3 linked regions of the Homo sapiens genome follow. The protein of the gene in region 1 interacts with the protein of each later gene in a pairwise test. Each region holds a gene or a part of one and is shown in the gene's direction. Other genes may lie near its edges.

The links.
Region 2: the proteins of EXOSC7 (region 1) and MTMR3 interact in a two-hybrid assay, tested with the Homo sapiens proteins (one study listed by IntAct).
Region 3: the proteins of EXOSC7 (region 1) and ESRRG interact in binary tests that used the Homo sapiens proteins (3 or more experiments, as listed by UniProt).

What each region holds. Positions count from the first base shown.
Region 1 is NC_000003.12:44,979,107-44,982,857, forward strand, and holds part of EXOSC7 (exosome complex component RRP42), read left to right. Parts: intron 1-3,751. UniProt on the Homo sapiens protein: Non-catalytic component of the RNA exosome complex which has 3'->5' exoribonuclease activity and participates in a multitude of cellular RNA processing and degradation events.
Region 2 is NC_000022.11:29,880,778-29,884,528, forward strand, and holds the start of MTMR3 (phosphatidylinositol-3,5-bisphosphate 3-phosphatase MTMR3), read left to right. Parts: upstream 1-2,396; 5' UTR 2,397-2,582; intron 2,583-3,751. UniProt on the Homo sapiens protein: Lipid phosphatase that specifically dephosphorylates the D-3 position of phosphatidylinositol 3-phosphate and phosphatidylinositol 3,5-bisphosphate, generating phosphatidylinositol and phosphatidylinositol 5-phosphate.
Region 3 is NC_000001.11:216,506,783-216,510,533, reverse strand, and holds part of ESRRG (estrogen-related receptor gamma), read left to right. Parts: intron 1-3,350; coding exon 3,351-3,595; 3' UTR 3,596-3,751. UniProt on the Homo sapiens protein: Orphan receptor that acts as a transcription activator in the absence of bound ligand. Binds specifically to an estrogen response element and activates reporter genes controlled by estrogen response elements.

The sequences.
Region 1 (3,751 bases):
GCTTATTAATGTTGGCCCAAAATATGCCATATGTATAGAGGAGCAAAACACAATTTACACCATCCAAATAAAGGTCAGGATGCAGGTGAATGAGCCTACCATGGAATCTCAACTGATTCAGTTCTGAAATCTCCTAAACTTTTGTTGCGTTGGTTATAGAGTGCCGGCAGTGCACCTTAAGCAGTGCCTGCCTGAACTCCTGTTGCTTGTATAGTCCTAGTCATTTTGTGTTTTACTTTTCACCTTTGGTCCAGTAACGTCCATTTCAGCTTCTGATGTCACTTTCCCTTCAGCCTTTGGTTCTTTTACTATTTCAGGGAATATTTCATCTTGTTTTGGTGATAGTTAGAAGCAGTTGAAATTAACCTCACGATGTGTTGAGGATTCAGTTGCTAGTAATGGTAACCAACACATCGGCTCAAGCAAAACAGTATGGATTACAAGGCTGCAAGTGTTTCTCCAGGAATCCTAATCTCTGCTGGTTTTTTTTTTCCCCCTCTTTGCTTTGTTTTTGTCTCCCTACAGATTGGTTTTCTATTTCTTGGGCCAGTGGTAGAAAAAATGTGGTTCCTTCCCAGTTCCTCTGTAAAAGAGACCATTCCTTCTCGTTCAGTTCTGAACTCATGTTTCCAAGAGAAAGAAACTCTAGTTCTTTTAGGGGGTTGAGGGAAAGGATGGACAGAATAATTAGGCTCAAACATGGCCACTAGAGGATGTGTCACACTTGGGAGAAGTCAGTTTGTGAGAAGGGAGGGTGGATCATTTTAGTTATTGGCAGAAAATGGAACCCTCTTCAGGTAGTTCAGGAGACTTTTATGATGGGACTCTAGAGCAGTATGGGGGGGGTTTCAGGGAACCAATAAGAGATGTTGAGGAGCCCCAAGACAACTACTGGGAGTGGCTACTGCCCCTATTCCAAAGGGGCCAGGGGAGGAAACAGTATTACCACATTTCAGTGATAGCTGGAACTGTGGAGGAAGGGCTGCCCAACATAAGTCATAGTCTTCGATAGATGCAGGCACTATCAGAAATGTGGCCACTAGATTGGGGGTGAGGGGCACCCTCTGATCTGGTATCTTCCACTGGACAAACCCAACCAGAAGCCAGCAAAGGGAGTCTAGGTGATACAATTTGAGTCAACCTGGTGAACAGATCCCCTCTCCCAGGGGAGAACAGAGAATCAAAAAGGTGGATTAAATCGGTATTTTGATAAATAATTTGATTGGTTTCTGTTAGGTTCTCTTTCAGTCTTTGAAGGCTATATCCCATTCTTATTAGGTACATATTATAATTTTTATTTCATTGAATATTTACAACAGTTCTGAAGGTAAATGTTATCTCTATAGATGAGGAACTGAGCTCGGGCAGGTTGAGTCGCTTGTCAAGGTGACACAGTAATTGAGTGGTGGCACTGGGATTTAAATCCAGACCTGTCTGATTGCAAAGCCCATACTTGACTCTGAGGCCACCTTCCTGCTGCAGTGAAAGTCATTTCTTCCATTTCCTCAGTAGGGATCCAGAGATCAAGGCAGGAGAGAATCTTTGCTTCCTCTACCTCCTTTTCTTTCCCCCTTTCTCTAAAAGCTTGTGGGGAAACTGGAAGGGAAAGAGAAAGTTCTAATTGACACCTCCCACTCCCCAGTTTTTCTAGAGCTTAAATAGTATATGGCATATACTGCTGTATTGTTTTGGTTGCATTTTTCCCACATTGAGTATAAGTTCCTTTAGAACCCTATATTGCATTTCTTTGTATAGCTTTTGTCTTACTAGTATCATAAACGATTTACTCTGCCCATACCATGCAGAACTTGGAGCAGACTTCAGAATTTTTAGAATCTAGGATTTATCCTCTTTTCTGGCTTACTGGGCTAGATGTGTGTTTTCCTCATCCATGAGAAGCCATTGCTAACCTCCCTCTTAGCCCAGGGATTCTGAAGCCTTGAAGTGCATTTTACTCACCTACAAAATACAGATTCTGAGGCTTTACCCCAACATTCTGAATCAGACTCTCTGGGGCTGGGGCCTGAGAATGGACATTATCATAAAGTGTTGGGAAATTTGGGGGCAGCCACCAGACATTGGCCCATGGGTAAGCCACTGACCAGAGATAAAGAAATCTCTGCTCTCTCCTGCTGAAGTCATATGGTTTCCTGCCTCTTTTTGAATGAGGCTTTGGAGTCAGACTGAGCAGGCACCTTCACCATTTACAATAAGTGGTTTTACTTGCATAACTGAACCTGCTTCCCTTGTGTAAAATGGGGACTTATGCACCTGGAAGTAGAATGGGGTTATGAGGAATGATGAGATAAGAGATGTCAAGCACTTGGGCTGTGGTTAACACAGAAAAAATGCTGGCTCCCTTTCAAGTTTGTTTTTCCATCAGAAGTGTGACTTTGTCTTAAACCATCCACACTAGATCCCCAGCCTTCATAGTGACCTCATTAAAGATTCAGCCTGTGGCTCCTGAGAATTAAACCTCTTTTGATTTGAAGGAATCGGGATTTTTCAATTATCTCAAGAAAAGGGATAGGCCAGGTGCAGTGGCTCACACCTGTAATCCCAGCCCTTTGGGAGGCTGAGGTGGGAGGATCACCAGAGGCCAGGAGTTGGCATCCAGTCTGGGCAACATAGCAACACCCTATCTCTAAAAAAAATTAGGTGTGTGGTGGTGTGTGCCTGTAGGCCTAGCTGCTTGGGAGGCTGAGGCCAGAGGATCGCTTGAGCCCAGGAGTTGGAGATTTCACTCCAGCCTGGGTGACAGAGAGATACTCTGTCTCTTAAAAGAAAGAAAAAGAAAAAAGAGAAGGGGGATCTGTGGCAAGAGCTGGAAAGTCCCCAGACAGCTCTGAGGTACCGCCTCTCATGGGCTCCGTGGATTATCTCATGGCCTGTGTGGCTGTCTGTCTTTATCTCTAGTGACATCTCTGCTTTTCTCTGCCAAGATTTATCCCTTCTCTGCAGCCACTTGCTGTCCAGCTTCCCTTCTTTGTAGAATCTGCCTCTGCCCAATACCTTTACTTTCGTGTGGCCTCTCTGGGCTCCTCCATATCATGACCTGTCAGCTCCTCTTTAACTCCTTTCTTCTCTCAAGTGTTTCTCAGATCAGAGACCAGATTGCAATGAGAGAATCAGTTTGGTCTGGTAGTATTTCACGCCAAAAAGAGTTGGTCACCCTTTGGATTATATGCCTTTGGTTCAGGCACCTACCCCTGGTCCTGGCTGTTGGGGATGGATGGTGACTGTTATGTGGCCTTTACAGGGCTTTAGGCACAATAAAGCTTTCCCAGGTTCAGCCTACTGAGTGCTATGGCTATGACCTGGACATTAAACTGGCCCTCATAGGTTCAGACCTGGCCATGGCAATTGACGAACCCTACCACAGGGCTCTTGGAACCCTGTGAAAGCCATTTTATTGTATGTTCTTGGCTGTTGAAGGGAGTTGTAGCCCAGCTGATGGCTTCCATTTCTTTTCTGTGGATCTTGCTTTCATCATAAGCATTGTTTAGGGGTATAGCATGGAAGAGGGAGATCAGGGCCTCAGCCTGGTTTTCAACTATGAGATTGAGCAGTCAGTATTCGGTTGCTCAGTCTGGCCATGACAGAATTGGAGCCAGCCCTCAGGACTCTTGATTTTTAGCTCTCTGCCCTTTCTGTTTACAGACCCATGGCACAGAAAGCCTTATGCCCAGACACTGCAGGATGCAGAGTTATGGAGCCATATCCTTTCAGAGGAATGCCTGGCTACTCAACA
Region 2 (3,751 bases), on another chromosome or scaffold:
AAATAAAATAAAATAAAAAAACTTTAAATCATTCATCAATTTTAGTATTTACTGTTTCTTCTCCCATTCCATTAAGCCTATAGTCAGTCATAGAACAGAAAGGGAAAATCAGGGCAGCCACATATAAATACAGGTGCAAAGTTGAGGCAGGAGTGGACCCTCAAGGGCCAAGAAGAGGTCATTGCTGAGCTTCACATTTAGCCCTGGGCTTTCTGGAAGCCAGAGTGAAAAGAGAGACACAATCAGATGCGTAACAGTTATCAAAAAGCAGGAAGCACACCGGTTTTTCTGGTAGTAAAGCAAGGGCTTTCCAAGCTTTTAACTCTAAAGTAATTTATTTCGTTCTTTCTTTTTTCTCTCTCTGACACCCAGATTGGAGTGCAGTGGCACAATCAGGGCTCACTGCAACCTCTGCCTCCCAGGCTCAAGCCATTCTCCCACCTCAGCCTCTCAAATAGCTGGGACTACAGGCGTGCACCACCACGCCTGGCCAGTTTTTTGGTATTTTTTGTAGAGATGGGATTTCGCCATGTTGCCTAGGCTGGTCTCGAACTCCTGAGCTCAAGCAATCCACCTGCCTCGGCCTCCTAAAGTGCTGGGATTTCAGGCATGAGCCACTGCGCCCGGCCTAAAGTAATTTCTTACTTGAGATTTTATTTCAGGCTACTGTGTCCATGCACTGGGCAGTACAGCCTGGTGGGTAAGACAGCACAGTATTTTTTTTTTTTTTTTGTCTGCTGGGTTTGAATTTTGTTTTAATACACGCAATTTATTCTGTGCTTCACTTTCTTCATCTGTAATATGGAGATAATGGCATCTACCTATTAAAGTTGTGAAGATTCAATTAGATGAGTTGTATGAATAAATGTTAGCTGTTAGTTTAGTTTCGTTTTTTTGAGACGGAGTCTTGCTCTGTCGCCCAGGCTGGAGTGCGGTGGCGCAGTCTCAGCTCACTGCAACCTCCGCCTCCCGGGTTCAAGTTATTCTCCTGCCTCAGCCTCCCAAGTAGCTGGGATTACAGGCGCCCGCCACCATGCCCAGCTAACTTTTGTATTTTTAGTAGATCCGGGGTTTCACCAAGTTGGCCAGGCTGGTATCGAACACCTGAGTTCAGGTGATCCACTCACCTTGGCCTCCCAAAGTGCTGGGATTACAGGCGTGAGCCCCCGCGCCCAGCCAGCTGTTAGTTAATCAAGAAATTCGACTGCCTACTACTTAACCTGCACAGTTCTAGGTGCTGGGGAAACAGTGACGAACAAGACAAGATCCTTATCTTCAAGTAGCTTTTACATTTTAGTGGAGTAAAATGACAGTAAACATTGAAAATAAATTTCAGAAAGTGCTGTGGAAAAACTTTACAACAGACGCAGGAATAGATTTCATTTGACTAGTTCTCCCAGTTTCCAGAAAAGTCAAGGGTAGAATGTTAAAAGGCAACTCAGAGGAGGTGAATCTGTTAGGGCCTACGGTAATGCAATCCTGGTTTGTGGAATTCTGCAGGCTAGTGTGGGTAGGTTACAATTTTTTGGGGGAGTTGTTTTTTACTTTGTTTGAAAACTCACTTCTTCCCGCTGAGCTTTTGATTAGGAGCTGAAGTTGAATCAGTTTGAAATTGTATTCTGGACCGGATGCGGTGGTTCATGCCTGTAATCCCAGCGCTTTGGGAGGCCGAGGTGGGTGGATTGCTTCAGCCCAGGAGTTTGAGATCAGCCTGGACAAAATGGCAGAAACCTCATCTCTACAAAAAATACAAAATTTAGCCGGGCATGATGTTGTGAGTCTGTAGTCTCAGCTACTCAGGAGGCTGAGGTGTGAGGATCGCTTGAGCCCGGGAGGCAGAGGTTGCAGTGAGCCGAGATGCCACTGCACTCCAGCCTGGGCGACAGAGCCAGACTCTGTCTCAAAAAAAAAAAAAAAAAAAAAAAAAAGAAAAGAAAAGAAAAGAAATTGTATTCTGAATACAACTTCTAAAACACTATATTTACTTGCATTATATTAAACTGGTTTTATCCTGACCACAATTGCAGGTGGAAGATACCACTATTGTTCTATTTTTCTGGTAAGTAGAGTGAGCCATGTCTTGCCCAGGGTTACAGAGCTTGGAAAAGACGCCTCCTAAAAATCTGTAGGACCACCTTTGGTTTTCTTCCAGATTTTTTTTTGTCATCTCTTTTCCTCCACCCATTTCCCATCTGTCTAGCCATTCTTGCTCCGCTGGGCTTTTTCGCGAGCCTCTCCCCAGCTGCAGCCCCGCCCATCTCCTGGGGCGTGACCACCTGTCCAGGCCCCGCCCCCGTCCAACCGGCGGAGACCCGCCCCCTTTCCCGGACACCGGGCTCAGCGCCCGAGCGTGCGCGCGCGTCCTCGCTCGTCGCCCGGCTCGGCGTCGGGAGCGCGCTCTGTGTGGCCGCTGCCGCCATGTTGTTGTGGTTGTGAGAAGGCGGCGGCGGCGGCGGAGTAGCAGCCGGACGAGACGTCCCAGCGGCTCAGGCGCTGCCCAGCGCCGGCCCTGGCAGGGAGCCTGGTGGGGTGGCGGAGGGGGAGACTGTGCCGTGGAGGGCCTCGCCATGTCCTGCTGCCCGGTAAGAACCCCATCCCCGTCCTCCGTCTCCTCGGCGGGTGAGGAAGAGCTGGAGGAGGGGCCGGCCTCGGCCCCGGCCCTGGCCAGGCGGCTGTCACCCTCTGAGGAGGCAGCGCCCTGGGAGGGCTGGGGACTGCGTGCGGGGCCCGGGGAGGGGCGTCCCCGGCGGCTGTCGCCGCCAGGGGGAGGCGCTGGGTGTGGGAGTGGGAATGGGAGCTCGGCGGCCGAGCTCGGCCCGGACCCTAGATGCGGGGGAGGCGGGGTCCCGGGCTCGGGCTGCCTTCCCAGACCTGGCGGGGATGGGCCCGTGCGGCTCTGGGTGTGGGACGTACCCTCGGAGCGCCCGGAGTTATTCCCACGAACTCCCGGGAGGTGGGTGTGCGCCCTTCGCCCCCTGCCGGGTCTGTGGCGGTCCATCGTTGCCGGATACTGGAGGTCAGGGGCCATGGGAGCCCCGGGGCGAACGGTGCGGGCCTGGGCCTTGTGGAAAGGAGGAGTGACCGCCCGATCGTGCAGCAGGGCATCCCCCTGACCTGGTAGTACTTAGGTGGGTAGGATGATTGGGGGCGGTTGGCGTAACTGAGGGAACCCTGGTCAGACTGCTCCGCAAATGATTACAGTGTTATTTCTCCGGTAGTAATTTTGCTTGATGTATGGCATTTCCGGACCCATAAGATGATACTGTAGGTTGTATTTTGGACTGGAAAACTTATGTCAAAATTATGGGGTAGATTTTTTGGCCACATTAATAGACTCCCCTGGAATTTGATAATCTCACTTGTGAGTTTTGGACATGGACTGCTATTACATATTGATGTTCAAATGTCCTTTCCAGACCCAGGCCTAAATTCTTACTGTTGTAGTATCTTGATTCTGACATCTATTTTTCCACAACCCAAACAAACAAAACAAAACAAAACAAAACCCCAAAACCATATACTTTTCTAGTTAAGGTTCAACTTTCTCATATGTGAATGGTAATGCCATAAGAGGCCTGGGTTGAATTACAGGAGATTATTATTATTTTTTTCAATGTGAAATGTTTGTGATTTGTCCATGGAGAGGTGGTGGGGACCTTCCCCTTTCAGATTCAGGGCTGTTCAGTAGGACAGGAGACATTGATGGCATGCAGAAAGTCTTCCCTTTATAGGGCCTATGACTTGGGTAGGC
Region 3 (3,751 bases), on another chromosome or scaffold:
CTTCTTTTTCAGTGGCTCTGTCTTATTCAATTTGCAGCTGCAAGGATGATGATATTTAGCTATCTTCCCAAAGTAAATGATCTGAACTAGACACATTTTTTTAGGATCTCTTTCACAGAGTAAAATATTGGAAGTTTTGATAAAGTTCTATTTTATTATTAGGTGTTAGACTTAATATGTGGGCAATAATATGTGTTTCATATACACTCTGGTTATCTTTTGAAATATTTATTCTTTTAGAATAGTATTTGCTTGTCTTATTGTCTAATTCAGTAGTAGTTCTTAATCCTGGCTTGGCAGTAGAACTACCTAGATTTTCAGCAATGCTGATGTCCTAGTTCTGGTCTCTTACTTCATAGATCTAGACTTGGGCCCAGTATCCAAGATTTTTAAGAGCTCGCCCATTGTTTTTAATATGTAGCCTAGTCCTGTCTAGTTAGTTCATAAACTTATGATATCCATTAAGTTTAGCTGGTTCCTATTAGCACAAATACTAGGAATATTTCCTTTAAAGCATAGTTAAAAAGAAACCAGCATGAACAATGAAAACAAAATAAATTACATACATTAATGCCAGTTCTATTGAGCCTGGTGTCAACGTGTAAATTTAACCAAAAGAACAAAACAGAGATTAAAACCACAGATCCAGAACTTGAACTAGGATCCCTAATGGAGATTAATATTTTCTTCAGCAGTCTGCCAGCTGAATCATTGTCTAATTAAATAGTTCAAATTTAGTGAGTTTGCATTTAAAGTATTAGCAGATCCGAGAATGGGTAAAGCTAAAATGAGTTAGAATCTTTTCTATAAATGGGAAGTTAAATTATCATAGTAATTTGATTAAATCATTTTTAAATCTCTCATGCTAAATCACAGCCTTGAAAGAATAGTTTGAAATCTTAATTGCTGTTTGTGAGCATATCTCTCTGCTATTTGTTCTTGTCTCATTTCCCATGACATCCTATAATATATCTCCTGCTGGGCAAGAGTAGTGGGAAAGGCAAGACTATGGGTAGGGCCGAGGTAACTGTGCAGCTGACTTCAAGCACTTAAAGATATGCCATGTAGAAAAAGGAAATTTATCCTGTATTGTTCTAGTAATTAGAAACAGGACCAAATGATAGAATTTGGAGACAGATTTAGGAAAATTTAAAGAGGAAATTCATAATAATTAGTTTTGCCTCTTATCAAGGAGAATACTCTACATACTTTTCATACAACTGGCAATGTCTTCATTAAGAATGTTGTAAAGAAGACAGCTGATGAAGATAGGAGTTTGAATAGGATGTGTTTAGAGGACAATTCATCCCAATTTTTAAGGGAATGCAAATTTAGTGTTCTACATTCTAGCAGCATTATTGATTTGAAGAATCCTGAATTTAAACCTGTGTCTGACACATATTACCAGTGCCACGTGTCTTCTAGGGCTTGGGGAGGTAAAATGAGGCCATGTTCACCTGAAATAGGTGCTTAATAAATGGTAAATGTATTATTTTTATTCTGGTGTGTTTTTGGTCTAGTTGGAAAATAGTTATTTCGTTTGTTTTGTCACTGCAGAGTGTAATTCCCATTTTCTCCTTCCATCTATTACTCTGTTTTCATGTAGAGAGCTAATTATTAGACCCAGGATAAGTTGGGAAAATCCAACTCATCTCTGTTCCCTTATGCACAAGGTCCATATTGCAGTCTTTTGTGTATCTAGAGACTCACCATAGTGTTTCCCCATACCTCCCATTTTTCCTTCAGGTAGCATTTAAGTGCAAAAATAGAGAGAAAGAATATCAGATCATGTTGCCATCATCTCTATGAATGTTTTTCTGTCCCTAAGATTACCAACCCCTAGACAACTTTAGAAATTATGTGTGTTTGTTTCTAAGAGACAGCACCATAGGAGGTGGATGAGATTGCCATGCTGAGAGGAACCAGACTGGAGAGAAGCTGGGTAGAAACAATCCACAGGGAAAGGCCAGGCGTATGTTGGGGAGTGACTTGAGTCCCGCTCCAGGGAACCACTATCAATGCTATTTCCCACTTGGAAAAATTCCTTCTTTTTGCTCTGCCAGGCAGAAATTGAGTCTTGAGCAGTAAATACTTATAAGCAACTTTATTCCAGATTATTCAAAAATTTTTTAAAGAGGTGTCATTAAACTACCTAATGTAAATAGTGGTCAGTTCACCAGTGATATGGTGGAATGATTCAAAATGACAATGTAAGTGAAAAAAACACTAAACAAAATACAAATAAATTTTTAAGACATGCTACTGGTTATCTTTTAATTAGTTTGCCATATTTCATTTTTATTATATATTTAGCCACTTGATTTTAAATTACATTCCCTCTCTTTTTGTTCATGTGATCTATGTTTGAATTGTATGAAAGATTAGGCTAACTACATATATCTTAGAGCTCAGCATTCTCAGAGAACTAGAATTATTAAACATGAAGAATCCCCCAAAGACTCCATTATGTGTAATTAACAGATAAACTGTCATCAGAATCAATAAAACGTGCTAAATGATTCAAACTTGTATATAATTAAGTGTCTGCTTTAGAGCTGGAGCTGTAACTTTTATTTTTTCCCCACATCTCACATTTCTCACAAGAATAATTTGGCAACCTTGTTAACCCTTTCTTTGCTTGATTGAATTAGATTTTCAAATTATTCATTTAAGGGCAAAGTTCACCTTTACAAATGCGAAAAATATTTCAGAACTCAGTGATCTGAAGACACCATTTGTTTTTCATCAGGGAAGTAGACTCTGTAAGGATGCTTTAATCAACTGATACTAGAACATTAAACATCCTGAAAGGATAAATAATTTATTGTGATTTCTGTATAGTGCTAGATTCAATGTAGTCACATGGAGTTCTTAGAATCTTAGTCAACAATTTTTTCCCCTGTTTGGGAAATATTGGCTTTTCCAGGCAAGATCAGAATTTTAAACAACCTTCCCCCACACAGCACTAAGATAATACTTTCAATAGATGGCCTTCCGTGGTTGTTTATTGAGTGAATGAATATATACCTGGATGAGACAATGAATAAAATAGTCAAGACTGTAATCTGTTAAAAGAAAGCCTTCTCTTGCTCAGCCTGAGAAAGAAAAATACACATTTTAAATCATAGATCTTTTCTAATAATTCCCATTTTCTAAGCTAGTATTAGAAATTATGTAGGGAAATTTGGAAAGAAATAGAGATTGTAGAAATGCAAGACTCTGAACAAATCATAGGTTCAAGCTCAGAGAAGTTCAAAAATAATTAAATTAATAACTAATTTTATAACTCTAGTCTACATAGGTTTGCTATTATTATTATAATTACTCATATCTTTTGCTTCATTGCACAGACTCCATGCACATAGAAGATGTTGAAGCCGTTCAGAAGCTTCAGGATGTCTTACATGAAGCGCTGCAGGATTATGAAGCTGGCCAGCACATGGAAGACCCTCGTCGAGCTGGCAAGATGCTGATGACACTGCCACTCCTGAGGCAGACCTCTACCAAGGCCGTGCAGCATTTCTACAACATCAAACTAGAAGGCAAAGTCCCAATGCACAAACTTTTTTTGGAAATGTTGGAGGCCAAGGTCTGACTAAAAGCTCCCTGGGCCTTCCCATCCTTCATGTTGAAAAAGGGAAAATAAACCCAAGAGTGATGTCGAAGAAACTTAGAGTTTAGTTAACAACATCAAAAATCAACAGACTGCACTGATAATTTAGCAGCAAGACTATGAAGCAGCTTTCAGATT